Homo sapiens: one gene and its partner. The protein of the gene in region 1 binds, or shares a complex with, the protein of each later gene. Each region holds a gene or a part of one and is shown on either strand. Other genes may lie near its edges. The genes, in order: DOCK5 and RHOG.

The links.
Region 2: the proteins of DOCK5 (region 1) and RHOG are in contact, whole or in part, in a cryo-EM structure (PDB 8XM7), measured with the Homo sapiens proteins. Residues at the interface, in NP_079216.4 of Homo sapiens: Val232, Phe345, Asn393, His394, Lys395, Gly396, Trp400; in NP_001656.2 of Homo sapiens: Ala121, Pro123, Leu126, Arg127, Arg128, Lys130.

Annotation. Positions count from the first base shown.
Region 1 is NC_000008.11:25,399,012-25,414,456, forward strand, and holds part of DOCK5 (dedicator of cytokinesis protein 5), read left to right. Parts: intron 1-899; coding exon 900-983; intron 984-1,917; coding exon 1,918-2,055; intron 2,056-4,546; coding exon 4,547-4,713; intron 4,714-8,971; coding exon 8,972-9,143; intron 9,144-9,790; coding exon 9,791-9,929; intron 9,930-11,087; coding exon 11,088-11,191; intron 11,192-12,182; coding exon 12,183-12,287; 3' UTR 12,288-15,445. UniProt on the Homo sapiens protein: Guanine nucleotide exchange factor (GEF) for Rho and Rac. GEF proteins activate small GTPases by exchanging bound GDP for free GTP. Along with DOCK1, mediates CRK/CRKL regulation of epithelial and endothelial cell spreading and migration on type IV collagen.
Region 2 is NC_000011.10:3,830,960-3,846,404, reverse strand, and holds the start of RHOG (rho-related GTP-binding protein RhoG), read left to right. Parts: upstream 1-5,445; 5' UTR 5,446-5,511; exon of another isoform or gene 5,512-5,837; intron 5,838-8,129; exon of another isoform or gene 8,130-8,338; intron 8,339-8,712; exon of another isoform or gene 8,713-9,128; intron 9,129-15,445.

The DNA of each region.
Region 1 (15,445 bases):
GGGGGTTTGGCTCTCAAGGCATTAAAGCAGAAGACCGAAGGGGAATCTGAAGGCTGGTCTTCGAAAGCACTTTCAGAAATGAATGTTAAGGTCTGGGAAGAAAACATGTCACTCCAATTTTGGAGTCTGTTGGAAACGTTTGCTGCAAACTTCTATTTCTCTTTCCTGATGAATTCTGTCTTTAAAACAGTACCCTATATAAGGCCTGTGTTTGGAATTTAAGTTTGGGTTTTATTTACCTGTTACAGGGACTTAGCTGGGGGGTCATGAGTGTTTACTGATGAGCCTGGTGCTGATATATAATAATAAGGGCAACCAGCATTTAATATATTTGAAATGTCTTCACATCTACATCTCATTTTCTTTTTAAAATAGCACTTGGGATAGGGGACTAGTAAGAAAGTGCAAATATTAACCTTCACTTAATATAGGAAAAAAGCGTGATATAGCCAATGTCACGGGACGAGCAGAAAAACTGTCACCTCCATCTTCTGTTTTTTAACTTTTTGCTCTTTCCCTTATAATATCTATGCACTTAATTTAATGATTAGCCTTGAGATATTGCCATTTCGCCTTTGCTTTGTTCTTTGGGAAAGTTATTTTAACGAATGACGTTTTGCTTTGTTGATGATGATTATTTGATTAGTGTGTGTGTGTGGTGGGCTGGTGACTGTTAAGAATGTAGTTTTGCTAAGAATTTGCTAATTAAGGAAAGACCACACAATAGCACACACTTTTTTGCATTGTCCAACATAGTATAAGAGCTGTCTGAGGAAAGGGATGCATTTTTAGTTAGACACATCTGGTTCTTCCGCACAGGACACATGTTTCACCCTTCCAGGCTTTCCTGCACAGATAGGAATGTGTTCTAATTAAAACTTGCATATGCTTTTTTTTAGGCTTTTTTTACAGAAAAGTACTTGCAGGAGCATCCTGAAGACCAGGAGAAGGTTGAGCTGCTAAAGCGACTAATAGCATTACAGGTACAGGACGGCTTTCCTCTACACTCCCAGGGAGGCCACAGTGTGGGACACCCATTATTCTCCAGGGCTTAAGTCTACAAGCCCACTCAGGGTGACTTTTCTTTCTTTTTTTAACCCTTGTGAAAGCACCACCTATCTATGTATTTGTTTGCTCGGCCGGCAGTTAAACTGCCCAGGGTTGACGGAGCCTTCTTAAAGCTGAGATCAAAGTTCATCGGCTGGGGCCGGGCCCAGTGGCTTATGCCTGTAATCCCAGCACTTTGGGAGGCTGAAGTGGGTGGATCACCTGAGGTCAGGAGTTCCAGACCAGCCTGGCCAACATGGTGAAACCCCATCTCTACTAAAACTACAAAATTAGCCAGGCATGGTGGTGCATGCTTGTAATCCCAGCTACTCAGGAGGCCGAGGCAGGAGAATCATTTGAACTCAGGAGGCAGAGGTTGCAGTGAGCCGAGATCACGCCACAGCACTCCAGCCTGGGCAACAGAGTGAGACTCCATCTCAAAAAAAAAAAAAAGAAAAGTTCATCTGTTGGTTTCCTGGCATGTGTTTCCAGCTGAGAGATGCTGGCCTCATTTTTTTCTCTCAAGACTTCAGTGGGCAGTGGTAGAAAACATGACTACCAAATTCAGTCTAAGACTTAAACCTATCAGTTGCTCATCCACGGAAGTGCCCCAGGACTCCGTTAGATTTGCCTCATCCCACAGTCCTTCCCCAGTTTAGGGCCAACCTGTATTCTTGGTGTGCACATTTTCCCACATCATTGACCAAAGTCCATCCAGTCCACAAGTCCTACACTGAGAAGTGGCCTTCCCATTGGCCAGCACTATGTCTAGCAGTTTACCTTTCCACCCCATCCCTCCCTTCCCCAACCAAATCAAAACGATCCCTCTTCCTGAAGCACACTGCACTCATTTTTTGCCCTTCTTTCCAGATGCCCCTGCTAACAGAAGGGATCCGCATCCATGGGGAGAAACTCACAGAGCAGCTGAAGCCGCTGCATGAGCGGTTGTCTTCTTGCTTCCGGGAACTCAAGGAGAAAGTAGAAAAGCACTATGGGGTTATAACACTGGTAAGCATGATCTAAGTAGCCTTCACACCTTTTTCTAGGCTCTGTGACCTTTTATGACACTGATTCGTTTTTCAGATGCCAAGTGAGTTGTAATAACTTAGCTATGGCATGGAAATAGTGAGGCTGGTGGGAGAGAGTGTGTTCCCCTCTTGGTGACCTTGAGCAGTCCTTGTGCTGGTCAGAGGTTCTCCAACTTGAACAACTATCAGAACCTCCCAGAGCGCCTGTGAAAATACAGATGGCTGAGCCATCATAACCCTGGAGTTTATGATTCCATAGATCTGGGGGTGGGGCCCAAGTAGTTGCAATTCTGAGAAGTTCCCGGGTGATATTGATGCTGCTGGTCTGGGGACAACACTTTGAGAACCACTGTACTAGAAATCAGGCCAGGTGCAGTGGCTCACAGCTGTAATCCCAGCACTTTGGGAGGCCAAGGAGGGCTGATCACTTGTGGTCAGGAGTTCGAGACCAGCCTGGCCAACATGGTGAAACACCATCTCTACTAAAAATACAAAAAATTAGCTGGGCATGGCGTCAGGCACCTGTAGTCCCGGCTATTCAGGAGGCTGTGGCAAGAGAATTGCTTGTACCCAGGAGGCGGAGGTTTCATTGAGCCGAGATCACACCATTGCACTCCAGCCTGGGCGACAGAGCGAGACTCTATCTCAAAACAAACAAACAAACAAACCAAAATAACTCAAAGTTTTCTGAATCCTAGACACTGGTTATTCTTGTGCTGTCTGGCCAAATTCTTACATTTTTTCCTAATCTTAGAAATAGTATCTATTTTGATGAAAAGTATACAGTTTTCACGCCTTTGAAGGGAAGAAGGAATTGTGAATTACATTTCATATGCATGTAGCTGCTTTCATAATTGTTTTTGACGAGCTCCTCACAGCTACAATTTTCTTTTCTCCTCCTGAGCAGTTCAGTGGATAGTGCGTGTATGTACTAACCTTTTCTCTCCAGTGAGTGATGGTGTAATACGTTCTAGCTCTACTTATCTGCATTTTTTTCTTTGAATTCATCCTGTTCTCTTTAATGGTCTTATTCTTTTTGTTTTGTTTTGTTTTTGTTTTTGAGACAGGATCTCTCTTTGTCACCCAGGCTGAAGTGCAGTGCGAGATCACAGCTCACTGCAGCCTTGACTTCCCAGGCTCAAGCCATCCTCCCACCTCAGCTTCCTGAGTAGCTGGAACTACAGGTGTGCTCCACCACACCCAGCTAATTTTTTTTTGTTTGTTTTTTGAGACAGAGTCTCGCTCTGTCGCCCAGGCTGGAGTGCAGTGGCACGATCTCAGCTCACTGCAAGCTCTGCCTCCCAGGTTCACACCATTCTCCTGCCTCAGCCTCCTGAGTAGCTGGGACTACATGTGCCCGCCACCATGCCCAGCTATTTTTTTGCATTTTTAGTAGAGACGAGGTTTCACCATGTTAGCCGGAATGGTCTCAATCTCCTGACCTTGTGATCCGCCTGCCTCGGCCTCCCAAAGTGCTGGGATTACAGGTGTGAGCCACCGCGCCCGGCCCACACCCAGCTAATTTTTAAAACTTTTTTGTAGAGATAGAGTCTCCCTATGTTGCCCAGGCTGGCCTCCAACTCCTGGACTCAAGCAATCCTCCTGCCTCAGCCTCCCAAAATGCTGGGATTACAGGTGTGAACCAGCATGCCCAGCCCTTTAATGGTCTTATTCTTAAACCCCTTATTTTCACATTATTTCCTCAAACCAAAGCTCTGAGTTTCTTTTCATGCTCTTTTCTCCCCCATTCCTGTCTGCCCACCTTCAGTACAGTTTCCTCCAGGGTATCTTTTTGAGCGTGTCTTTCAGCCATTAAGTGTTCAGTCGTGCCTTCTTCCTAAGATTGTGCCTCCTAACCTGCTGCTACTTAAGAGTTTTTCTAGGAGCATTTGTCTTTTGCACACACATTCCTAGACAGCAAAGACTGTCTTCGATTTAATGAGCTTAGTCATTATTAGAACTTGGCCGGTATTAGTGAGTCATTTTCATATGGTGGCATCTGGGGGTAATCCTACTGGTGACATTTCTAGAGAACATAGGATTCACCAGGTTAAGCTGCATGTCTACAGTGTCAATCTAACAATTTTCTCTAACCCCAATATTCCATATTTTAAAAGACTGAAAGCAGCTGAGCTGGGGAAGCAGACGGAAGGTTTTGCTATTTATTGGAGAGTGTGAGGCACATCTTAATTTTTTCCTGTCTCATTTAGGTAGCAGAAAATTATGACAACTTTTTCTCTAGTCTTAGCATCAGGGAGGTTTAACCTAAGTTGTACCTATAGCTAACAGTATCAGTACATGCAATATTTAACAATAGAGGCAGCACAGGCACCAACCAATCAGAATGGGGTGCCAGCCACATAACCAGTACAGATGGGTACTGGTTAGCCACAAGCAAACAGGGCAGCTGTGGCCAGTTCATAGGGGCTGGATTCCAGGTCCGCTAACCATGTGGAGTCATATGTTTTCAGCCACCCAACTTGACGGAGAGGAAGCAAAGCCGCACGGGGTCTATTGTGCTCCCCTACATCATGTCTTCCACTCTGCGGAGGTTGTCCATCACCTCAGTCACTTCCTCTGTGGTTTCCACCTCTTCAAACTCGTCTGACAATGCTCCTTCCAGACCGGGATCTGATGGGTAAGGGTTTCATCTTTAATCTGCAGGAAGGGTGGGGTAACGCCTTACTAATGTTTGCCTTTAGCCACGCATCACTCCTTTGAGAAAAATAGCCTTTGGGTCATTCTCATTGTCTTCCTCATGAGGAATGTCATGATTAGCAGAATAATAACAACAGTTACTAAAAATGAAAAATGACAAAGAAATCACCCATAATCCTACCACACTATTACATACCTATAGTCATTACCTATTTTTTTCATCATTTCCATTTTAAAAAATAAATTTTTACATCTATTTTATGAATAGGTTTTATAATCACATGGCATGAAATTCCAAAAGAACCAAACGATATATCACAAAAAATCTCCCTTTAATCTGAGACTTCCCACTACAGTAGAAGCCCTGCAGTAGCCCCACCCCTAGAGCCAGATGATGCTAACATTCAGGTTCTTGGTAGCCCCATGGCAGCTCTTTATAGGTTCACAAGCATTGCGTAATTATGTGTTCTTCCCCACACTTTTTTTATATGAATGGTAGAATTTTCTTTACTTTGCTTTTTTTCATTTAATATTATATCTTGAAACTCTTTCCATTTCAGAACATAAAAAGCCCCCTCTTTATGCTTTCTGTAGCTATAGATATGGCTCATTGTATGTATGTGGCATGATACAGATTGAGTATCCCTCATCCAAAATGCTTGGGGCCCGAAGTGTTTTGAATTTCGGATGTTTTAGTATTTTTGGATATTTGCGTTATACCTGTTCAGCATCCCTAATCCAAAAACCCCAAATCTGAAATGTTCCAGTAAGCATTTCCTTTGAGCGTCATGTCAGCATTCAAATATTTCACATTTTGGAGCATTTTGGATTTTGGATTTTGGGATTGGGGATATTCAACCTGTATATTCTACCAGTGCTTACTGGTGGTTATTCAGTTGCTTTCACTCTATTACTGTTACTTCAGTGTGACAATGAATAACCTTAAACACATGTTATTTTGTACATATACAACTATATCAATATGGGAAAAATCTCGTATGTGAAATTGCTCTGTCAAAGATGTATATTTGCAATTTTGAAAATTATTCCTAAACCGACTTCCATAAAGATTATACCAGTTTACACTCCCACCAGCAACACACAGGAGTGCCTAGTTACTCACCCTAGCCACCAAACTGTACTCTTAGTCTTTTTAAATTTTACCAATCTGATAGGTGGAAAATATTTTCTTGTATACTTTTTGTTTGTTTTTTGGTTTTTGTTTATTTTTCTTGTTTTGCCTGAAGTTGAACATCTTTTCATTTGTTTGTAGTTTTATTTTCTGTGACCTGTGGTCAAATACTTTTTTCTGTTGAATTGTTGGCCCTTTGTCTGTGAAATGAGTTGAAATGTTTTCTCCTAATTTCTCCTTTATCTTTTGACTTCTAATTTGTTGCTTCTAATTTTTTATTGAGTTGTGCTGATTTTTTTATGTAGTTATATAATCAATCTTTTATTTTATGACTTCTGGGTTTTATTTCACAATTAAAGGCCTTTCCCACTCTAAGATAACAAAAAAGGTACTTTTTTTTTTTCATTGACTTTTAGGGTTTCACTATTTACAATTTTGTCTGTAATCCTTTAGAATTTATTCTAATATAAGATGTTAAGTATGGAGCCAACATTTTTATTTCCAAATGGCTACTCAATTCTTCTTATAACATTTAGTGAACAAGTCATCTTTTTGTTTTTTTTGAAATGTCAATCTTATAAAAAATCAAATTTCCACATACTCTTTAGTCTGTGGACATTTTTTTTCTATTTCTTAGATTTACCTGTCTATTCATGTATCAGTACTATGCAATCTTAATTATTATAGATATAAAACATTTTTTATTTCCTAATATTCCTTTTCAGAATTTAATCTGGCTAGTGTCGCTATTGCTCACTGTTAGATTAACTTGTCTAGAATCCTATTGCTATTTTTATTAGGATCATGTTAAATGTATGGACTAACTTTAGGAAGAGTGATGGCTTTTTGATGCTGAGGCTTCCTTGCCAGAAACATAAAATGCCTTTCCATATGTTCAAATTTAAAATATTTGAAAGGAGTTATAGTTGTGTTCTTTCTGCCTAGCAATATATTTAAATAATATATTGCTAAAATACAGGAAAGGTTTAAAAGAAAACAATGCTTTATTACTTCATCACTCAAAGATAACCACCGTTAAAGCTCAGGTATATAATATCAAAAAAGTATGTTTATTTTTTATTTTTTATTTTTATTTCTTTGAGATGGAGTCTGGCTCTGTCACCCAGGCTGGAGTGCAGTGGTGCGATCTCGGCTCACCGCAAGCTCCGCCTCCCGGGTTCACGCCATTCTCCTGCCTCAGTCTCCCGAGTAGCTGAGACTACAGGCGCCCGCCACCATGCCCGACTAATTTTTTGTACTTTTAGTAGAGATGGGGTTTCACCATGTTAGCCAGGATGGTGTCGATCTCCTGACCTCGTGATTCGCCCGCCTCAGCTTCCCAAAGTGCTGGGATTACAGGCGTGAGCCACCACACCTGGCCCTGTTTATTTTTTATACAAGTGGAAAAGCATTGCATCTATCATGTTGTGACCTACTGCTTAATTTAATATAGGTGATGAGCATTTATGCATCATTAAGTATTTAAAATAGTCTTGAATATAAGTTATCAGTTGACTCACCATTTTTTCACAAATGTTTAATTCCATAATACAATAATTACATCATAAAAATAACCTACCTGAATGCCACCCTGCCTGGAAATCAAATATGTAGTGTTTCTTAAATTATGCATTCTTTTCCGTTGATATAGGTATATTTACATAGCTCCAATTATAGCATATAGTTTGGTACTTTGCTGTTCTTTCTTACCTTTTTATTATAAGCATTTGTCATGTTGCTGTGTAATTTTTATTTATGTATTTTTTTTTGAGACAGAGTCTCGTTGTGTCGCCCAGGCTGGAGTGCAGTGGTGCAATCTCGGCTCGCTGCAACCTCTGCCTCCTGGGTTCAAGCTATTCTCCTGCCTTAGCCTCTTGAGTAGCTGGGACTACAGGCGCCCACCACCACGCCTGGTGAAGTTTTATATTCTTAGTAGAGACGAGGTTTCACCGTATTGGCCAGGCTGGTCTCTAACTCCTGACCTCATGATCCGCCCACCTCGGCCTCTCAAAGTGCTGGGATTACAGGCGTGAGCCACCGTGCCTGGCTGTGTAATCTTTATTACTATCAGCTTTTACCATCATTTTTGATGGCAGTTGACATTGCATCATACAAATATGCCATGATTAATTATTCTTCTACTATAGAATATTTAAGCTGTATCCTTCTTTCTAAACAATTAACCATAAAACTTCATTATAGATTTTAATACAAAAATATGTATGTAACTTGTATCAGTATAAAATATATTTTTATTAAAAACTATAGCAAACATATTTGGACATGTAGCTTTCTTATTAGGATGCATTCTTAGAAGTGGTGGGATTATTTCTAGAATGTAGTAATCTAGATTCTAGATTACTTCTAGAATCTAGATTACATTCTAGTAGTATATAGTAATCTAGATTACTACATTCTAGTAGTATGTAGTTTGTGGGTAGGATTTGAACACAGGCTATCTGGCTCCAGAGTTGTGCTCTTACCCACTACATAAAACTGTCTATTGAATCTCTTACTTTAAAGATTCTGTCTTTGCCTGTACATTGAATTAAGCCCTTCACTTCCTGGGATAAGATACTCCCTAATATTTTCGTCCAGTCGTCTGATGGTCTTGTTTCTGTACATTAACACCTTGAGATGTTTGTTCAGTTGTAATTGAAAATTTAGATTTAGAATCTGAGAGTGAAGTCATAGGTCAAGAGTAGGTTGAGGAGGCCGGGCATGGTGGCTCACGCCTCTAGCCTTAGCACTTTGGGAGGGCTGAGGTAGGAGCATCACTTGAGCCCAGGAGTTTGAGACAGCCTGGGCAACAGTTTGAGACCAGCCTGGGCAACATGGTGAAACCCCATCCCTACTAAAACAATACAAACTTTAGCTGGGCATGGTGGTACACACCTGTAGTCCCAGCCACTCAGAAGTCAAGGTTATAGTGAGATGTGATCGCACCACTGCACTCCAGCCTGAATGATGGGAGAAAGACCCTGTCTCAAAAAAAAAAAAAAAAAAAAAATAGCCTAAAGAGTCATAACTGCTGGTACTTTCATAGTGAATTTTGATTGCAAGGTGATCAGTATTTGTGATGTTTGTCCTTGTTCCTGGCCAATAGCTCAATCTTGGAGCCACTTTTGGAGCGCAGGGCCTCGTCAGGTGCCAGAGTTGAAGATCTGTCCCTTAGAGAGGAGAACAGCGAGAACCGGATCAGCAAGTTTAAGAGAAAAGACTGGAGTCTGAGCAAGTCCCAGGTCATTGCAGAGAAAGCACCAGAACCCGATTTGATGGTAAAAAACAGAAAAGAAAAAAAGAAATCTCTGGAGGCTTGCCCCCCTCTCCCCTGTACCCAGGCATATCACCATCCCCTCCCAGATTGAAGCTGGGCTATGGCTTGTTTCAGGACTCAGCAGCCTGGGTTAGTGTCAGGTCGCAGATTGTGGTAAGGAAAGCACATACCTCATGAGAAGTTCGAGTCTATAAATCAACATTGGTGAAGATCTTGTACCCACAATGTAAACATGTGGGTTGATGCTTAGAGCTGTCGTTCTTGCCACTCTGTCCCCTGAGTCAATCCAAACATTGTCATTTCTCTTCTTTAATTTTTTTAAAAGGTACTTTTCCTTCCATATCAAGTTGTTAAATGTGGCAAGACCACCTTTTCCTGAGAATCAGGGTGGCTTATTTCCAACATAAATGACACAGCCCAACTGTGATCAGAAGAATCAAGTCTGTGGCCATTCAGAAAATAATCTGTGGTTCAGTGGTTCTAGTCAGTGCCTGTTCGGTGTTGCCCATCATATGACAATGCTTAAAAATCGCTCCTTCAGTTAAGTCCTTTTCCAAGTGTCTTCTCAGAAGACAAGGCTGTTGAGAGCATTGTTGAGCTCAGCCTTCCTCACCGTGAAAATGTTTTGCTTTTTCTCTCTGGTCCTAGAGCCCAACCAGAAAAGCACAAAGGCCAAAGAGTCTCCAGTTGATGGATAATCGGCTATCACCATTTCACGGTTCTTCACCTCCTCAGTCAACACCCTTGAGCCCACCTCCACTCACTCCCAAAGCCACCAGGACCCTAAGTAAGTTTTCCTGTATTCCTTATAGTCTTTTTACTAGGGAATGGAGTATGTTTATGCATCTGGGCAGTTTGTAACTAAACCAGCCAGAATGTATGTAAGACCATTGTAAAACTGGTTCAATTTCGTGTTCGTGTATTATACAGTTAGACTGGAGTTTGGCAAGGAGGCCACTAGGACTCATTAAACTTTTCTGGATAGTGATCCAAAGGGCATTAGTGTCAGTTTTATAATTGTGAAGGTATAAATGAGGCAGATCTGCACTAGGACTAGACAGATAACAAGTAACTTACAAGCTAACCATTAGTTAGGTAGACCTGAACAGGGACAAGAAATAGACCCATTCCATCTACTGCTTATAGTCTGGCTTGGGGAACCAGCAGTGCACAACACTTGAGAAGAATTGCAAAGTACCCATAGTCCAGAGGCATGGTAGAGGGATAAATCTATCGAGCCAGATGGGAGACAATTGTCAACCAAGAGTTAGAGATAATCAGTTACAGTTTCCTGGAGGAAGTGGATATTTTCCTAAGCACTTGGGCTATATCAGAGAACAGAATAATACCATACATTCCAGAAAATGTTGTCATCTTCAGCTTAATACTAAAACCCTGAACAAAAAAAGTTTTGGCCAGGCACGGTAGCTCACGCCTGTAATCCCAGCACTTTGGGAGGCCGAGGCAGGTGAATCACGAGGTCAGGAGATCGAGATCATCCTGGCTACAGTGAAACCCCATCTGTACTAAAAAATACAAAAAATTAGCTGGGCGTGATGGTGGGTGCCTGTAGTCCCAGCTACCTGGGAGGCTGAGGCAGGAGAATGGCGTGAACCCGGGAGGCGGAGCTTGCAGTGAGCTGAGATCGCGCCACTGCACTCCAGCCTGGGCAACAGAGCGAGACTCCATCTCAAAAAAACAAAAATAAAAAAAATAAAGTTTTTGCTTCAGAACACCTTGTGGAGCTCTTGAAACTTCTGGCGAGGGCGTCACCTGTGTGATGTGGGGTAAGAAGTCTTCTTCGTTCTATCCGCAGAAACCATAGAATGTGGCTTTCATCAGTTGGTTGACCAGGTTGGCTTAGGTGTTACAGTGCCAGCAACATTTCCATGAGCTTCCTTGCTCAGTGCCTCTCTCTGCCGCCTGCACTTTCTGTCATTTCTAGGCTCCCCATCGTTGCAGACAGATGGAATCGCGGCCACTCCTGTCCCACCTCCACCTCCCCCCAAAAGCAAGCCCTATGAAGGCAGCCAGAGGAACTCCACTGAGGTAGGGAAATCACAGCTGGCAACTGTGGCCAGGGAGCGCCACTCCTGGGAAGGCAGCATCAGGTTTTCCAGGCTCTTTAGTGGGCAGGTTTGCTCATAGACCTGTCACTGCAGTCGATTCTTGGCTCATTCCTGAAACCACAGGAGATAGAGAAGTTTTCAATGGGAAGGACAGACATGCAAGCAGATGATGAAGGTAGAGGCAGGTGTTCTCTGTACCTCGTCCTGGGTACCTGTGAAATAAGCCGTGAGTTCTAGTTCACCTTTTTAGGGGGGCGGGGGCAGGGTCTGGCTCTGTCACCCAGGCTGGAGTGCAATAGTGCGATCATAGCTCACTGCAGCCTCAAACTCCTGGGCTCAAGTGATTCTCCTACCTTGGCCTCTCAATTAGCTGGGACTACAGGCATGTGCCACCATGCCCAGCTAATTTTTTAATCTTTTGTTGAAATGGGGTCTCTCCATATTGCCCAGGCTGATCTCAAACTCCTGGCCTCAAGTGATCCCCCCCACCCACCTCAGCCTTCCAAAGTGCTGAGATTACAGATGTGAGCCACTGCCTGCCCCCAGCCCTCTATTTCACATTTGAAGAGTTTACTTCTTCTGAATAAAGGACAGTCATTCTGGAGTGACCTCAGATGGGTTTCCTTCAGTCATTTAACAAATGACTTTTAAGTGCCTCCTGTCTATACGCCAGGAACCCAAGTGTTGGGGATATGGCAGCGAGAGAGAGAGAGAAAATGTGTGTGTGTGTGTGTGTGTGTGTGTGTGTGTGCGCGCGCGCGCACGCACGCACGCACGCACGCGTGTGTCTGATTAGCTCATGGGAAACAAGGAGGATAAGTCAGTGTAGTTTTCCATTTCACTTTGCAAAGCCTGTGTAGATAAACTCAGATCAATTAGAAGCTAAAGCAGAATATGAGAAATAGGAGGAGAAGGCAGAATTGGGAAGAAAGCTAAGACCTGCTTCTAATTTTGTGTTTCTGCTTCTGCAGCTCGCTCCCCCACTGCCTGTCCGAAGAGAAGCCAAAGCACCACCCCCTCCACCTCCAAAGGCTCGGAAGTCTGGCATCCCTACTTCCGAGCCTGGATCCCAGTAAGGATCTTGCCCTCCCTGCAACACCGAGTGCCTTAGACAGCTGCTGCCTGAGAACTGGCCTCCAGCCGGTGTCCTCATTCCATGGGGCTCCCTGCTGACTGCATTTCCTGATCTGGGATGATGTTTACCAGCCCAAAACCAGTCATGTTCTTCCAAAAGCTTCTCTTTGATAGAATTTTGAGGCCATGCCACCTCCCTTCCAGTCCACATGGAATTCCAGAATCAGTCACAGCCTCTGATTTTTTCCAAGAAGAGATTGCCTTCACCATTGTTAAATGTCAGCCTGTACGGCAGAGACATGGTGGTCTGCACAAGCCTGGACAAGTTCTTCCATATTGATGGTGGAGCAACCCCTGTAATCTACTCCTTGGAAGGATTTTTTGCTTTGCTTATGAAAAGCTGTGCTTGAGACTTAGGTACTTTTCTCACGTGGACACACTGATCCCATCCCATATTGCATCTTGGAAGAGATGGATATCAAGTACACTTTGGTAGCTGAAATAATCATATCTTTCTGATGTCTATTGTATCTCCTTTGAGGAAAAGAACACACATTTTTAATGGAGATTGGCTGCTTTCAGGTATGTGTGTCTATCATTGAAAGAGCATGGACTCAAACATCAGCCCTGAGTTCTTGAGTCCACCCAACTCCCATCTTCTTGTGGCACAGGAAAGCTGCCCTCTCCCTCTCCCACCACACTCCTGACTAATGGCCTTCACTGCGTCGCAGTCACTCCTTCCCTACGGACTTCTTTGAAGCTCTTCCTTTTGCACATACGGCTTTTTTTTTTTTTTTTTTTTTTTGTCCTATTACCTCCTCTGAGCGCAAATCACTGGCTACAAGGGACTTACCAGTCTGGATTCAGCAGTTTCTTTTCTAAAACCCATTTGGGTGACTCAGCAGCCGCATCTGCTACCTGATTTTATCCTGGAGAATACAGTGCAATATTTCTCTTTGATTATTTATTCCTCTTGATTGTGGAATTAATTTGATTGCTTGCTAATGGTACTAGTAGTACTCCTTTCAGAAGAAAAAATGGAGCGATTTAGGTGACCAAATATTACATACATAAATAGCCACATGAAGTTTTAGACGTTTGGACTTGAAGCCTCAAAGATCAACCAACCAGTCCCCTTATTTAGTAAATAAGGAAATTGAGGCTACACACAGAAAATTGTGCTACAGATTATTACTAATAACCCAGCTTGCTAAATTAGGCTATACCTAGGTAATCTCTAGAAGACAACTCTGACAGACTCTTTAATATTTACCCCTGGTTGGAACAATATTTGAAATGTCCCAGATATTTCTATGCTACTTAGATATTTGTGGCAAAGCAGAAAGCTTTTTGACTGTGAAGGCAGAGGTCAGCACTGGGGGAAACTTGCTGGTGGTCTCTCCCACAACCTTGCCCAGAGTCCTTTCCACTAAGGAGGTGAAGAGAACAGAGAAAGAGATTTCCATTTCTGCTGCCAGAGCTGGTATTTGCCTGCCTGATTCTCTGTGTTTCCTGTTTCACCGCCACCCTTTCAGGAGAGAACTACACCAGTTCATCATGAGGGTCAGGGAAGCAAAAGCTCTCAGATGTGTCCAGGGCGTTACTTAAGAAATGAGTATGCAGATTCTGGAAGGGGTGTGGAAAAGGTGATCCTTTACCCCCACCCAGGAAAACCTGCATTGTGCTAGCATGGAAGAATCATGGGCTTTGGAATTAAACCCATTTGGTGGAATTAAACCCATTTGGTTTCAAATCCCAGTTATGACATCTGTTAACTTTGCAAACTCACAAAAATTATTTGAAATTATCTGAGTTTTCATTTTCTCACCTTCCAGAATGGGGATAATGCCTCCTGCATCGGTTGTTGTGAGGTTTCAATGAGATGAAATATGGGAAAGAAGAGGTACTCACCTGATGGTCCCTGCTTTCCTCTGCTAGGCCTGAGTAGGAACTGGAACTCTCTAAGAGCATTACTCATACTTTTTTTTTCTTCCAAGGTAGTTTGGAATGTGAGTGCAAGTTAGTTCTGCACATACAGCCCTTCTCCAAATGGTGGTTTCCTTTGAGGTCTTTTACATGATTATTTATGACTAGAGACAAACTTAATAAGAACTCAAGAGGATTTTAAATGGAGAGAACTCAAGCTGTAGAGAAAGGAGGAGGCAACAGACAGGATATGTAGGGGCTTACCTAGAGCCTGGCACGACTTCTGAGAAGTCACCCAGCAGACCGGCTAGAGGGGATTTGTGTGCCACACTCTACTTGCCGGGCTGCCATTAAAATAGAAAGATATAAAACTGGGTCACCAAAAAAACCAAACCTCAAGGCTATCCTTCCAGAGCAGTAGAAATGAGTCCCACAGCCTGGTCTTTGAGCAGAGGCTGGGAAGATAGGATACATCACTGTCTGGATACCTTCTCTTTTTAATAGAATATATTCCGTATGATTCCCTTTCCACCTTAATGGAAATAATAGCTCTCTCCTGCCTGAACAAAAGGGATTCCAGGTAGTATTGTGGCTAAGAGATTACAGCGGACGATGGAAGGTTCATTTTTTAGGGAAGGTGTTGGGTAGGAAGAGTCACATTTGACAGAATTCATAAATAATGTGTCCTGAAGTCAGAGGATGACTGCAAAGAAACACCTCATGATTCCATTAAATATAAAGAGATAAGGAGCAAGGAGGAAAAAAGAGAAAGAATTGGTCTTTATTTTTCTTGCTAAGAACTCTCTGGAGTATTGAAAGACATTGAAATTATCCCTAAAATTGTCACAACTTTTGTGAATACTGGTATACGGTTGGAGGTGTTTTTAAATCTTTATTTCCTCTCTTTCTTTGTTCTAGTGACTTGTCTTGCTTTAAGATTTTTTTTAAAGGATTGTTTTATTCAACATATATCAAGTTCTTATGGAATGCCAGTCATGGTACTAGCCCCTTGGGATGTAGTGGTTGAGTGTGTTCAATGGAAACAGCCCCAGTATACAAAGACAGTTCACTCTGGTGTGCTGTAGGATTGGAAAGGGAGTGGTACCAGATGAAAATGAAACCCTAAAGAAGACTGCTGGGCCATGAGTTGCTTCCTCCTCCTCCACCTTAACCCTCTGATTCCAGAATTGCAGTCATTTTCTTCTGCCAAGGAAATCCATTAAAAACTGCAGCC
Region 2 (15,445 bases), on another chromosome or scaffold:
TGCAGTGAGCAGAGATCGTGCCACAGCACTCCAGCCTGGGTGACTCTGTCTCAAAAAAAAAAAAGAAATAATGAAGAGGAAACTGTGTTCTACTCCTGAGGCTGGCTGAGAGAGGGAAGACCAAAGGATCAAGAGGAGCCCCAAGAAGGCTGAGTCCCCTGGAGCCACAGCAGAGGCAAAAGAGAATTCAGATTTAAGGGTAACCTAAAGGGGCTGGGACTGGGGCTAAGCCAAGACCCCTGTGGATCACTGGTGAGCTCCTGGAGCTGGAGTTCAGTGAGGAATAGGCTGGGAAGACCCCTTTGGAATCCTCAGGGCACTGGTGAGATCAGTTCAGGGCCTTTCTCCTCTCACTCTCTGTCCCCTCCTCTCTCAGGGAAACTAGTCAGCTTTAGCATTTTGACATTGAGAGAGAGGGAAGAATTAACCAAGGGCGGGGGGATACCTGAAAACATCAAGGGAGTGTGGAGAAATTAACTAATGTTTATTTGCTGTACCCTAGGGCAATTTACGAGGGCTCCACATGCATTATGTCGTTTAATACTCACAATCTCATGCAGCACTTGCCAGTCCCATTTTATTGTTTTTTATTTGTTAGTTTTTAGAGACAGGATCTCACTCTGTCACCCAGACTGTAGTGCAGTGGCATGATCATAGCTCTCTGCAACCTCAAACACCTAGACTCAAGTGATCCTCCCACCTCAGCCTAGCAAGTAACTGGGACTACAGGCATGTGCCACTATGCCCAGCTAATTTTTGTGTGTGTATGCAGATGGGGTCTTGCTATGATTGCCTAGGCTGGTTACAAATTCCTGGGCTCAAGTGATTGTCCCACCTTGGCCTCTCAAAGTGCTAGGAATAGAGGCATGAGCCACCACGCCCAGCCATTCCCATTTTAAAATGAAACTAAGACTGAGAAGTTGGCTCTGTTATATGCTCTTACAGTATTCTGTACTTTTTTTTCTGGAGAAATGTTCTTGCTATGTTGCCCAGGCTGGTCTGAAACTCTTGGGCTCAAGCAATCTTCCTGCCTTATCCCCCTGAGGAACTAGAACTGGAGACAAACACCACCATGCCCAGCAGCACTCTACTTTTGTATGATTACCTGTTTAAGGTCTATCTCCCTTACCAGTTATATCAGGGCAGTTTTCTCTACTTCATGATTGGCATGTAACACTATGTCTGGCACCAAGAAGATTTTCAATAAATATACATTGAATATTTATGAATATGGGAGATCTCATATGACTAATCAAAGGCCATACTGTGTTACAACCATCCTAATCTGTCTCCAAAACCTGTCTGTGATCTCTATTCTACCCCACCAAGTGCTTTCATATTATCTCACTTCTAAATGTCCAGGTTCAATGTCCTTGTCTCTCAGCTGCTTGTAAGCATACATGCACACCACCTACCAAGAACTCACCTATTCAGGGAAAGCTAGTGAGAGAGTAGAAAAAAGAAACAGCCCATTTGGGATTGTGCCCTCTTCCTACCCTCTTCAAGTCAGCATTTCTCCTCCTTCAAGAAGCCTTTACGGACAGCTCCACCTGTCCACCTGCTTCCCTTTCCTCTGGCCCTTCCCATACCTGTGCCACAAAAGTGTTTCCAAGTTACCTGGAGTCTGATTGTTCTACACATATTAGTACTTTATTAAAGCAATTTAACATTATGGATGTTTAGTGAAGGCAAATGTGTGCTCAGGCCTGCCTCTGTCAGGCCCAGTGGGTGGACACAGAAATGAATCAGACGCAACCTCAAAGGACTTATAGTCAGTGGGGGAGACAGATATTAGGCACAGATGCAATTTACTAGAGCACAAAGCATGATGACCTAAATGGTATTAAAGAACTATGAGCAACATGCTATATGCATAAACCTTAATTATTATTCTGAAGAGTGTATCATAGAAGATGAGAGCTCAAAGGTATCATCTAGTTCAACCTCTGTTTTCCAGTGGAAGAGTTTGAGACAGAGAAGGGTGGGGCCTAGCCTAAAATCTCAATCTGTCTGTCTGAGCCAAGACAGACTTCAAGTTTGTTTGTGGTTTTTTTTTTTTTGTTTTTTGTTTTTTGAGATGGAGTCTCGCTCCGTCGCCAAGCTGAAGTGCAGTGGCGCGATTTCGGCTCACTGCAACCTCCGCCTCCTAGGTTCAAGTGATTCTCCTGCCTCAGCCTCCCGAGTAGCTGGGGTTACAGCCATGCACCATCACACCCAGCTAATTTTTGTATTTTTAGTAGAGACGGGGTTTCACCATGTTGGCCAGGATAGTCTCGATCTTCTGACCCCATGATCCGCCTGCCTCAGCCTCCCAAAGTGCTAAGATTACAGGCGTGAGCCATTGTGCCAGGCCAGACTTGAAGGTTTTCTAAAGCCCAGCCTTGGACTTTTTCCTCCTCTTCTGATAGCTTCATATGCAAAGTCCTATACTTCATCAGACCATGAGATCTTTGAGGCTGGATCAGGTTCTCCCTCCTAAACCAGGGCTAGGCAAGCCCAAGACACTTACAGGCTCAGGAAATGCAATCTGATCCCAGGCTGCCAATCCAGTCTTTCAATCTGCAGCACCTAATGTGCTCCCTACTCTTATCACTATGTCCTTAAATTGATTTTCAAATATTTTTTGCAGGAAACTTAAAAACAAAATTAAACTCTCTATGCAGAATACTAGTAAATAAATCAGATAAAAAGCAAACCTTCTCTGGTTGAAGGGGAGAGAGTCCATAGCTCCACTGTTTTTCCTGTTCTTAAGTCCTGGGAAGGGAATTCTAGGAACACATATCAGAAACATTTCTTCTGGAGCTGGATGTGGTGGTGTGTGCCTGTAGTCCTAGCTACTTGAAAGGCTGAGGTGGGAGGATGACTCGAGCCCAGGAGTTCCAGGACAGCCTAGGCAACATAGTGAGAGTCCCATCTAAAAAAAAACAACAAACAAACCAGAAAAAACTTTTGTGCTGGGACATAATCTTTAATGGCGTCATAGAAGCTGCTTTAGCGTATGGTGTTCCTCTGAACCCTGTCATTTCTGGGGCTCACAATCCTTTCTTTATTCATGAAATACCAAGCACCCCAATGTCAAGTGGTCCCAATGGTGTATGGATGGGAATGAGAATTTCCCCTTGTGCCTCCTGCTCTCATGTCCTCCACAAAGAGGAGTTTGTCTGAAGGGCTACAGGGACCAGACCGAAGAGGAGACAAGAGACCCAAACACTGCCTGGCAGGTCAGGGGAGGCTTCTAGAGAAGGATCTTTGAGAAAGACTTCATCCACACAGTCATTCACCAGCCTGAATCTGATAAAGCCTCTGTTTTTGAGGATGATACAGTAGCCACCAGCTACACATGCTATTGACCACTTGAAATGTTTCCAGCCAAATTGAGACAAATTGTAAGTATAAAATACACACCGCATTTCAAAGACTTGGTACAAGAAAAGAATGCAAAATATCCAGTTAATTTTTATAACCAGTAATTTTTATGTTGATTACCATGCTAAAAGATAATATTTTGAGGCCGGGCGCAGTGGCTCATGCCTGTAATCCCAGCACTTTGGGAGGTTGAGGCGGGCAGATCACGAGGTGAGGAGTTCAAGACCAGCCTGGCCAACATGGTGAAATCCTATCTCCATTAAAAATACAAATATAAGCCAGGCATGGTGGCACGTGCCTGTAATCCCAGCTACTTGGGAGACTGAGGCAGGAGAATCATTTGAACCCAGGAGGCGGAGGTTGCAGTGAGCAGAGACCGCGCCACTGCAGTCCAGCCTGGTGACAGAGCGAGACTCCATCTCCAAAAAAAAAAAAAAAAAAAAAAAAAAGATAATACTTTGGCTATGGCTAAGTCAAATATAGTTAAAATTCATTTCGTTTCTTTTTACTTTTTTTGAAATGTCATTAATAGACAGTTTTAAATTACTTACGTGGTTCCTATTTATTTTTTTAAAAATATAAGTAGGCTGGGTGTGGTGGCTGACGCCTGTAATCTCAGCACTTTGGGAGGCCAAGGCAGGTGGATCAACTGAGATCAGTAGTTCGAGACCAGCGTGGCCAACAGGGTGAAACCCCGTCCCTACTAGAAATACGAAAATTAGCCGGGTGTGGTGACATGCACCTGTAACCCCAGCTACTCGAGAGACTGAGGCAGGATAACTGCATGAACCTGGGAGGCAGAGATTGCAGTGAGCCGAGATCGTGCCACTGCACCCCAGCCTGGGTGACATCGTGAGACTGTCAAAAAATATGTGTGTGTTTGTGTTTATAGAGACAAGGTTTCACCATCTCTGTAATTACAGGCAGACGCCACCGCGCCAGACTCTTAGGGTATGATATTTTTAAAAGATATTTGTTTAGTGTTTGAGATACGCATTGACAACAGGTCTTTTACACCCATTCTCATGTTATCTTCAAAACTACGGGGTGAAATATAATTATTCTATTTTACCAAAGACAGATTTGAGGCTCAGAAAGGTTAAGCTATTTATTCCTGGAATCAATCCGTTTATTTGAAAAGCTTCTGGAAGACAGGGATCCTGTCTTAAACGCTGTGTTTCTTCACAGCACCTAGCACTTAGCTCTCTCCACGTGGTAGGCGCTCAGAAACTTTGTGCTGAACGAAGGATATGGATTCTCAAGTCAAAGCTCCGAGCGCAAAGCCAGGGAGCGAAGCACCAGAGGGCGCCCATGAGCCCGCCCACCCGCGGGTCGCCGGGGCCCAAGCTGGACCTCAGGCCTGGGTGCGGCTCTTCAGCCCCAAGCAGCTGCGCGCCCCAGCAGAACAGGGGGCGAGGGGGCGAGGGAAGCCCCAAGTCCTCCGTCCGCCCCGCCCCCTCCCCAGAGCCAGGCCTCGCAGGGCTGCACGGTGCTGAATGACGACTCGACATCCTGTTTTTGGGGCCCGCGGCTCCGCCTGCGCCTCTGCTGATCTTGTCTTTCCCTTGGGTGCTGACGCCAGCTCCTCTTCCCCCCGAGTCTCCCCACCCTCCCCAGGGGTCTGGGGCCTTCCCACTGCTGAATCACCACCACCTCGCACTCCCCCGGGGCTCAGGGCAGGGGCGGGGACTGCCCCAGCCTCGGCCACCACTCTATCCCTGGGGTTGACTGAAGGGACCAGGCCCAGGGGCGCCTTTCTCAGCATCTTCCCGCGGAGGCTGGTGGGGGCGGGATGGGGGGAAGAGGACGAACGCCTAGCGCCCAGGGTAGGGCCTCCAGGGGTAGGGTGGCCAGGAGGAGGCGGAGAGACTTGACCTTGGGAGGCCTGACTTACTGACCGCAGGGGCAGCGGACTGGGAGGGGAACGTGGCAAGCCCGGGACTGGGCCGGGGGCGAGGCTGGGGGCGGGCCGGGGCTGGAGAGGGGGAGATCGGCCCTCGGACTTCCTGGTCGGGCCCCGCCCCGGCCCGCCCCGCCTCGCCGGCCCGCCCCCCCCACTTCCTCCGGCCTCCCGCTCTCACTTCCTTCTCGAGCCCGGAGCCGCTGCCGCCGCCCCCAGCTCCCCCGCCTCGGGGAGGGCACCAGGTGAGGCCCGGCCGGGGCTGGCGGGTAGGGGTCCGGGGGAGGAGAGCCCGGCCGGCCCAGGACTCGGCGCGGGCGCCGGCTCATGAGTTTGCTGGCGGAGGCCGCGGGCGGGAGCTTCTCGGTTCAGTCCAAGTAGGGCGGGCGCGGCCGGCCGGGCGGGGCGGGAACGGGGCCACTGCGAGCCGGCGGAGGCTCGGCGAGGGTGGCTTCCCGGCGGCTGTACCGCCTCTAGGGAGCCGAGAGGGACCCCTGAGGTCGGAGGGTCCCGGGCTCCAAGATAAGTGTCTCTGAAGTGGAAGAGCTCAGAGCTGGGAGATCGGACGCAGGTGGGGTGTCCTCAGAAGTTGGTGGGGGGGGTGTTGAGAAGTGCGTGAGGGGAGAGGGCTTCTGGGCTGGAAAAGGCGCTCCCTCTGCTCTGGCAGTTGTGACACTTGGGGTGAGAGGGGCGGTGTCTGGGGCCTCCGAAAGCTCTCTCCCTGTCAGATGGATGCTAATACAGACCCACACTCGGTCTGCAGCCCCAAGGCCCTCTGCACTCAGGAGGACCCGGGTTGGGTGGGGGAGCCCCGCCGACCCCAGTCGTTGTCTGTATGTCTGTTTTCCTGAGTCCCGACCTTACCTGGAGCCAAGCAGTAGGTATTTAGTGAGCAGACGCTGTTCCTAGCTGACCAGAGCCTGGCCTTGCTCTTTTGGGAGTAACTTGGTCTTGCCCTGTAACTGGAAGTGGAAGGACTCTCATTCAGAGGTACTGATAGTCCCTGACAAGTTTTTGTTGTGTCTTTTGGGGACAATTGAGAACCATCTCCTAGTGTTCCTCTTCATTCTTAGTCCCTGAATTATACACATGCTCCTGTCGTCTCCCTCCACACCTTCTTTAGTTTCTACCCACAAATCCGCCATCACTCTCTTCTCATCCCTTCCAGTCTCTTTTCCTCCAAACATACGGTCATACCTAGGCCTTGACCTGTCTTCACCTACCCTGCCCCATGTTCGTCTTGGTCCTCTGCAACCTGCCCCATCCCTTCCCTTCCCAGCTCTGGCACCCACACACATGCACCTCCTGGTTTCTTCCATCACCCCTCATTCCTTTTGAACCCTCAGCCTGTCACCCTCTCTGTATCCTTCCCTCCCACCCACTTATCTCCAGCTTTGGAATCAGTTGTTGAAGACTTAGTGAGTTCTAGAGTCTTTTCAAACCTCCCTAGCTTGGAGAGGCAGTCTGCAGCCTCCCAGTGATAGAGACGGATTAAAGAGCTGGAAAGCCTGTGTGTGTGTGTGTGTGTGTGTGTGTTTGCGTGTGTGTTCGCACGCGCGTGTCTGTGTATCTACATCTTCATCTCTTAGAGATGGATTAAAGAGATGGAAAGCCTGTGTGTGTGTGTGTGTGTGTGTGTGTGTGTGTGTGTGTTCGCGCGCGCGTGTCTGTGTGACTACATCTTTATCTCTTACAGACAAAATAACTGCCCTCAGCCTTGAGAGGGCCCAGAGCAAGGGAAGCCAGCAGAATGAAGGGAACCTGCAGTGAGTGAGGTTGTGGTTAGGCAGGAGGAAGCCGTTTGTAGCAGTCAGGGTAGGGTGACACAGGAATAAGACTTGTAAGAGAGGCCGTGGGAAATCAAAATCACCCCAACCCGTGGTGCTTGACCAAGAGGCCAGGCCTAGAAGCCGGAAGACAGCCTGAAGGTCCCTGACTCCATTACCTACTAGTTCCAGCATCACCTGGTGGAAAGAATGGGACCAGCTTGGGTGTGATGGAAATAAAGGGAGGAGGCAAATGCAGGATTCTGGAGGAAAGACTGCAGCTGGTCTAACTTCGGACTTAAGAAGCGGCGGAGGCAAAAGTGTCTGCTCCTTTCCTGCTACCTTCTGGGGCCTGCCTAGGCTGGGTACCCGCATGCCCTGATCTGCATCAGGGCCTTAGTGACCAGGAAGCCCTCTGGAGTTCTACTGACCCCTCTGCCTTCAGGCATCCTTAATACTCCCCATCTCACCTAGGACCCTATTCCTTCTCAGGAATTCCTCCCAAATTTAACTTCAGTCCATCCTGGCTATGGAGGCTCTTGTTTCCACTCTAGAGCTCCATCCTCAAGCTTTTGGGGTGCATCTGAGGATCTTGCTCCTGTCTACCTCCTCTAGTCATCTGTATTCATTTCTCTCCACTAGAAAAAAAGAGAAGTAGAGGGGAGTAAGTGCTACAGCTAAATTTAAGGGCTCTCCCTGTTCCCCATTCTGTCATCTTCCCATGTCACAGTCGTCCCTCTCCCATGAATTGTTCTTCTTCCAGTCCTGCCCTTCCAACCACTTGTCTCTCTTCCCATTTCTTGGAGGTACAGAAGTTTGGGTCCGGGAAGAAATCCCAGGGACCTACATAAGAGCCCAGGTTAGAGAAGGATGTGCATACAAGGCACTTTCCCAGCATCACAGCTTAATAAAAACCCCAGGAGTCCCAGTTCCTAGGCTGGCAAACCAGTAGTTACTTTAGTATTCTGCGTAACTGAGCAAACCCACAGGGCTCTGATGGTAAAGACAAGATGGGTGAGACAGGGATTCTCCCAGGTGAGATCTGGCCCCATTGGAAGTTTGAGCTAATTGCAAAAAAGGCATCATTGGAAAAAATGTGACCAGGGCGGGAGAGATTTTAATGGGAAAATATTGGGGGGTAAAGGGAGGTGGTGGCTACAACCTAGGAGGCTGCCGCTGAAGTCTTGGCTAAACAGGTATGGTCAAGGTTGTGACATGAAGAAGGGGGCTCAGGCCCACACTGAAGACTCCTTCTATATACTGTAGACCCATTAGTGGTGAGGTCAGTAGGGGTCCGTGACAAGAGCTGAGGAGGGAAACCAAAGACAAAGCCTGGGCCACCTCCCCAGATCAGACTGGTTTTCCTGTCCAGGGTCCAGCTTCCTCTTTTGTCCTCATCTCATATGGGGGGAGGGCATCTCTCCAGGAGCTAGAGGCCAGAGGAGGAGCTTCTCAGCTAGGGCAGGGCCAGAGTGGCTGGCTATTGAGTAATGTCAGTGCTAAATCATGAATGCACCAGGATGGGCTAGGCATGAGAGCCTGGGAACTTGGAAGCAAAAAGGCTCAGATGTAAGTCAACCCACCCTTTGGCCCATTTTCTGAAGGAATAAACCATGGTAGCGTTCTCCTGAATGAGGTTAAAGAGATGGCCCATTCTCAGGCCAGAGTTAGAATCCTCACCTTCTCTCCTTTGTAGAAGTAGCATAAGGGTGGAGGCTAGAAGATCCGGATCCTTGTCGTAGATTTGCTACCTGGTCAACTTGGTTTCTCTTGGCTCTATTTTAGCATTAAGGAGTTGCATATCAGTACCTCCAAAGGCAACAGTGAACATCATGGCTCTGACTCTTCCTCCCCCAAGAGACTGCTCATAGCAGTGCCCCTCACTCTGGGCCCTTGTGTCTTACCAGCCTCAATTTGACAGGTCCGAGTAGTCTGTACATACATATCTGTCCAGGGATAGTACTGCCCTTTCCCCAAGCACAAGGACTGTTAGAGCTTGAGAGATAAGAAGGCAGAGAATGTTGGGGATTTTGCCAGGGGGTAGTAAGATGGGGGAGTACCCTGTCTCCTACTCCAGCTCTGCCTCACTGACAGTGGAAAATAGATGCCGGAGTTTCCTCCCTGGTGTTATTTTCCCTTGTGGAAACCCCCTCAGGCCTCGGGCGGGGCTAAAGGGACTGGGCAGCCCTGGGTCTCTCTGTGGGTATTTTCAGGTGGGGGTGCCAGGATTTGCAGGATGGCACTTCTGTACAGCCTCATGTGAAATTAGCAAAGGCAAAGGAAGTGCCACTTCACAGGCCTTTGGTGGGGCCCAGGGACTGCTGAGCTGCTGCTAGGCGGGGAGGAGGAAGCCAGTGTGCACCCTTCCTCTGTGCTGCGTGGGGGAGGGGGCAGCTTCCTTGGCTCCCCCAGCCAGAGCTGTCCTGGTCCTGAGGCTCAGCTTTTTTTTTTTTTTTTTTTTTTTTTTTTTGAGATGGAGTCTTGCTCTGTCACCCAGGCTGGAGTGCAATGGCGCGATCTCAGCTCACCACAACCTCCACCTCCCGGGTTCAAGCCATTCTCCTGTGTCAGCCTCCCAGGTAGCGGGGACTACCGGCATGCACCACCAGGCCCAGCTAATTTTTTTTGTATTTTTTAGTAGAGATGGGGTTTCACCATGCTGGCCAGGCTGGTCTCGAATTCCTGACCTCAAGTGATCTGCCAGCCTCAGCCTCCCAAAGTGCTGGGATTACAGATGTGAGCCACCATGCCCAGCTGAGGCTCACCTTTTATGGAACACTTAGGGTGCTGGGACAGTGAGGGAAGAAGGTTGGGAACTAGGACTTAGTGAAAGGGTCCTAGACTGCCCCCAGCCTTCCCAGCTACCACTGTCTCGTTTCCTAGTGGGTGGCATCAACTCTTCTCTTTTCCTACCTGCTGCTGCAATGTAGGATCCTCTCCAAAGGCTGAAGGATGAATGACAAGAGGTGGAGAGTCCTCCAGCATGGATTTTTTCTTTCTTTTTTTTTTTTTTTTGGAGATGGAGTCTTGCTCTGTGGCCCAGGCTGGAATGCAGTAGCATGATCTCTGCTCACTGCAACCTCTGCCTCCTGGGTTCAAGTGATTGTCCTCCCTCAGCCTCCTGAGTAGCTGGGATTACAGGCGTAATCCCACCACTACGCCCAGCTAATTTTTGTATTTTTAGTAGAGACGGGGTTTCACCATGTTGGCCAGGCTGGTTTCGAACTCCTGATCTCAAGTGGTCTGCCTGCCTTGGCCTCCCAAAGTGCTGGGATTACAGACGTGAGCCACGGCACCCGGGGGATTTTTTTTTTTTTTTTAAGGCTAGGAACTGGGCTCTCTTGGGTTCTTCCCTGCTGATGGGGAGAAAGGGAAGAAAGAGACTCAGCCCTTGGCCTGGTCCCAGTCCCACACTGACCTCATGTCTCCCCCAGCTTCCTCCTCCCAGCCCAGCTGCAGCCAGCTGCAGCCCCTTTGAGCCTCTTTATATCACCTCTCCTCTATTCCTCCCTTCAAAACAAACAAACAAACAAACTTGTAGAGCTTTGGAAGTGTTTCCAACAGTGCCCCTGTCCCTTGCCATGTCTTTGACCAAGGGTCCTCGGATATTCCCAGTCTGTAGCCTGTCGGGACCACTTTTCCTTCCCATCTTCCTCATCATCTCTGAGCTAGATCTGCCAGCTTCACCTCTCACCCTTCCAGTTGAAGACAAGACAGTATAGCTTATGTGTTTATTACCCCAACTTTGGGCTCTTCAGGGTGAATGAGAAAGAAGTTGGTTACTTATGTCTTGTGTCTTCTGGTCCTAGAGGTTCTTCCTTGTTCCCAGCATCAGAGTCTGTGGATTGATGGGGGAGGAGGGGTATGTCATTCTACAGCTTTTGCTCAGCCCTTCCCTGGGCTTCTGGAAATAAACAGAAGGTCAGACTACCCTCCCCCTGAAGCATCCAGTTAGTTCAGCACAATGAAAAGTACGGTCAATGCTGGGAAAGGTAAGGCAGAAGAGGGGGTTGCTGTGATGTCCTGGAGAAGCTGGGGAACAGTACTGGGCCTGAAGGACAGGAAGGATCTGAAGGGGGGTGAGTCGCATTCCAGGAAGAGGAACTCCCATATGCAAAGACATGATTGCATCGACTTCATTCAGTCATTTACTGACAGCTACTACATGGTGTGCTCAGCTTAGGGTGCTCAGCAAGGTCCAGTCAACCAGGACCTTGCCCTCTAGACACTCCCATTCTAATAACAAGAGATAAGATTCACATCAGCCTCTCCAAGCCTGTGAGAGAGACAGGGACCAGACTTTGGATAGGATAAGTCACTTCTGACTTGGATAATTTACGCTTTCCTGGAAGAGGCAGCAATGGTGCATGGTTCCATATTACTACTTGGTGTATTTTACGGAAGAGAATATGGAGGCCCCTTTGTAGAGGATCAGGATTGGAATGGCCAGAGATGGATTGTAGTTATAATGAGGTTCAGGGAGGGCTGCAGAAAGGGAGCCCCATGTTAGGGAGGCAGGTTATAGAAGGCTGAGGTAAGTTCCCATCACCTCCATACTCGCCTATCTTTTAAGAGTCCGTTCCTCCCCTCCCCCACTCCCAGTTGGGACACTTCCCCTGCTGTAACAGCCACAGAGATCTGGCAATCAGGCTGCTTCCTTTCCCTCCCCCATTCTGGGCCTGCCTGGGCCACACCCCAAGGCCAGGCCCCACTGGGTACAAGCCGGGCTCCAGGGACCACATTCAGATAGGGTTAGACCCCCATGGGCTATACTTCCTGCCGGAGCCAGGTCAGCCTGGTACTGGGAAGAGAGATTTTTGCCTATTTCAGGCATAGCTTTTGCCTGTCATTGCTGTCCGATGAGATTCAGCATTGCAGTCTTGTCTGTTGGGGGGTGGGCAGGGAGTGTCCGATACTGGGCTTCAGAGAAGTCTCTCCATATCTCAGTGATGAGGGCTGGTACAAGCAGATCAAAAGGCAATGGTTGTACAGTCCTGTGTGCCTAGCCCTATACTTAGAGGTTTTTTTTTGTCATTTAGTCCAGAGAAGCCAAGGCTTCAGTACTGAAGGGCATGTACAGCTGGGAAACTTACGTATGACTGTTGGAAAAGGAGAATCACACAGAGCCAAAGCAGGGTTAAAAGGGGTGGCCATGGGTGCAGTGGCTTACTCCTGTAATCCCAGCACTTTCAGAGGCCAAGGCAGGTGGATCACTTGAGGCCAGGTGTTCAAGACCAGCCTGGCCAACATGATGAAATCCTGTCTCTACTAAAAATACAAAAATTAGCTGGGCATGATGGCACATGCATGTAATCCCAATAACTCAGGAGGCTGAGGCAGGAGAATCACTTGAACCCGGGAGGTGGAGATTGCAGTGAGCTGAGATCGCGACACTGCACTCTAACCTGGGCGACAGGTAGCCATGCAATGGATATCCAAAGAAGAATTCAGTAACCTTATGCAACTGTGAGACTTAAGTTAGGCCTTAAGGAGTAAGGAAGATTAGAGAAGGGAGAGGGAATGGCAGCAGAGGGAAAAACAAAGAGTAAAAGTTCAGAGGCAAGAATGATCCTGGCTTGTTTGCAGAGGACATTGAAAATCCCTCTGGAACAGGGAGCTGGGAACTCACACTTGCAAAGTACCTACATTGTGCACATATTATACATTAATGCACTTAGTCCTTATAACAGTGCTATGTGGTAGGTACTGTACGTTGCCACTGCATTTGAAAGATAAGGAAATTGAAGCTTAGAGAGGCAAATCATCAGAAGCTCAGGGTCACACAGCTGGTAAGAGGCAGAACTAGGATTCAAACCCAAGTCTACGTAACTCTAATATCCCTTATCAAATTGTGAAGAACTCTGAATGCCAGTATGAGGGACCAGGCATGATCTGAATTGGGACTAAAAAGCCAGAATAAGTCATTGTAATTTGTCTAATAACATACAGATCTGGCCAGGCATGGTGGCCCACGCCCATAATCCCAGCACTTTGGGAGGGCTAGTCAGGAGGATCACTTGAGACCAGGAGTTCAAGACCAGCCTGGGCAACATGGCAAGACCCTGTCTCTACAAACAAACAAAAAGATGCATTAAAAATACAAAAATTAGCCAGGTGTGGTGGTGCCTGCCTGTAGTCCCAGCTACTCAGGAGGCTGAGGTAGGATGCCTTGAGCCTGGGAGGTTGAGACTACAGTGAGCTGTGATGGCACCACTGCATTTCAGCCTGGGCAACAGAACAAGACCTTGCTCCAAAAGAAAAAACAAAACAAAACAGATTGGCAACCATTGATTTACTAAATAACTTTTTTTTTTTTTGAGACATGGGGTCTTGCTGTGTTGCTCAGGCTGGAGTGCAGTGGCTACTCACAGGGACGATAACCTTGACTAGTGTACACACTACAACCCTTCACTCCTGGGCCCAGCCTCCCTAGTAGCTGGGACTGCAGGTGCACCACTGAGCTGGGCTTAATGATTCTTTTGAAAAAGCCACTTAGTGAATAAGTCATTGTTGAACCCCGCTCCAGATAGGTCACACTCCTGGTTTGGTGTCCTGCAGCACTGACATCCCTTCTTCCTGTTTGGCACAGTTTAGACTCTATATGCCCTCCTGAAATGGGCTATGGTAACTTATTCAACCCAGTTCAGGCCAGAGGATTTCAGAAAGAAGAGTTGTTTTGGGAGAGAGGATAAAGGTCTGAACTAGACCTGAGTAGGGAGGACTGGGCTGATCCCCTACCACAGATACAGGCATACTCAGTGCTTCCTGCCTTCTGGGATGAAAGGCTTTGCTCCTGTCACCTCCTGTGTGTACAGCACTTCAGTTTACAAAGTGTATTCATTCCCATGGTCAGGTTCCTTGATGCTGCCCTTGAGGCTGGGAGGGGTACTATTATTACTTCTACTGTACAGATAAAGAAACAGAGGCTCCAGGAAGGGCAGTAACTTACCTGATCAAGGTCACACAGTTAGCTGGTAAGGGGTAACTTGAAGACTGTATGATGCACCAAGGAAAACACAGGACTTTGGGTCACAAAACTGGGTTTGTGTTCTGGCTCCCACACTAACTAGCTGTGTGATGTTGAGTTACTTTTACTGTTCTGAATTTGTTTCCTCATCTGTAGAATAGGCATAGTACTAACAGGTTGTTATAAAGGTCAAATGACATAATAACATGTGACCTATAAAGGCTTATACCATATGAGGGCTTTTTTATCAAGGGTCAAGGTCGGCAGATAAACTCAAGACATCAGAGTCAGGTATCCAGTACTCTTGGCCCTATACCACACTGCCTTTGCTCTGCTTGTTTCTGGACACTACCATACTCATCATCCTTTTCCAGTGTCGGTCCTCGTTCCCTTCCCAGCCCGGAAGCTACGCTGTCCTTCCCCTCTCCTTTGAGAGCTGATTTACTGATTGCTAGTTGATAACCACCTCTTTAGAGAGCTGTACTTCCAGTCTCTTGGGCCTTGTGACAGCCAGCCGGAGTTCCCTCCTTGCCTTCCTGCCTGGGCCAGCCCAGTGCTGGGCTTTTCAGTCATACTGTCAACACCCACTCTCCTGCTCTGTGTGGAACTGAAGATTACAGGCCCAGGAGTTCTGCTTTGAATGTCAAGGCTTCCCACGTAATCCGCTGGGCACAAATAATGCCCCCTGCCTCCAAGGAGCTTTAAGTCTTAGTTCATCCACCTAGTGCTCTTGTAACAACCATTTTAATCTCTAATTCCTGGATAGGAAAACTGAGGCCCAGCAAGCGTAAATGCCTCATGCTTGGTTATAGTGAGTCAGCAGAGCTGGGGTTAGAACTTAGGTCTCTCAACTTCCAGTCTGAGGTCTCTATTTGACTCTCCACTGGCCTAGAGGGTCCTTATGCCCTTCCCTGACCCACTGTCTGAGGGTCTCTATCTGAATGTCCTGACGTTGCATGCACACGTGCACGCGCACAAACACACACACACACTCTCTCTCATTCATGCAAATAGGATGGAAATATTTTTTAATGTGAACCAGAGACACAACTTCATAGAGTGAAACCATTCCTCTCCCAGCTGATTCCAAGGCAAACTGTAGCCTGGGAGGGAGGTGGGACCAAGCCCTGGGTCCTTTGCAGCCCCCACATGACGAAAGTTTCTTTTCCACTTCCCAGTGGGGATTTTCTTCCCCACTTGTCATTGATTTTTGAAGCTTCTGAACCAGTGGTGAGAGCCCAGGCTGGGGGGGTAAGGGGTTCCCAGACCAGGGTGCAGCCTTGCAGTATAGCAAGTGAAATGGAGAAAATGGGCTAGTGTTGATGGTGCTTGGGTGGAGCCAGGGATAAGGAATACTCAGGGATTTGGTTGTGTTTAAAACAGGGCTGCCCCCTCTCAGGGAGCAGGCCCTGGTTGTGGGAGACAGTCAGGGAAAGGAAGTCACAT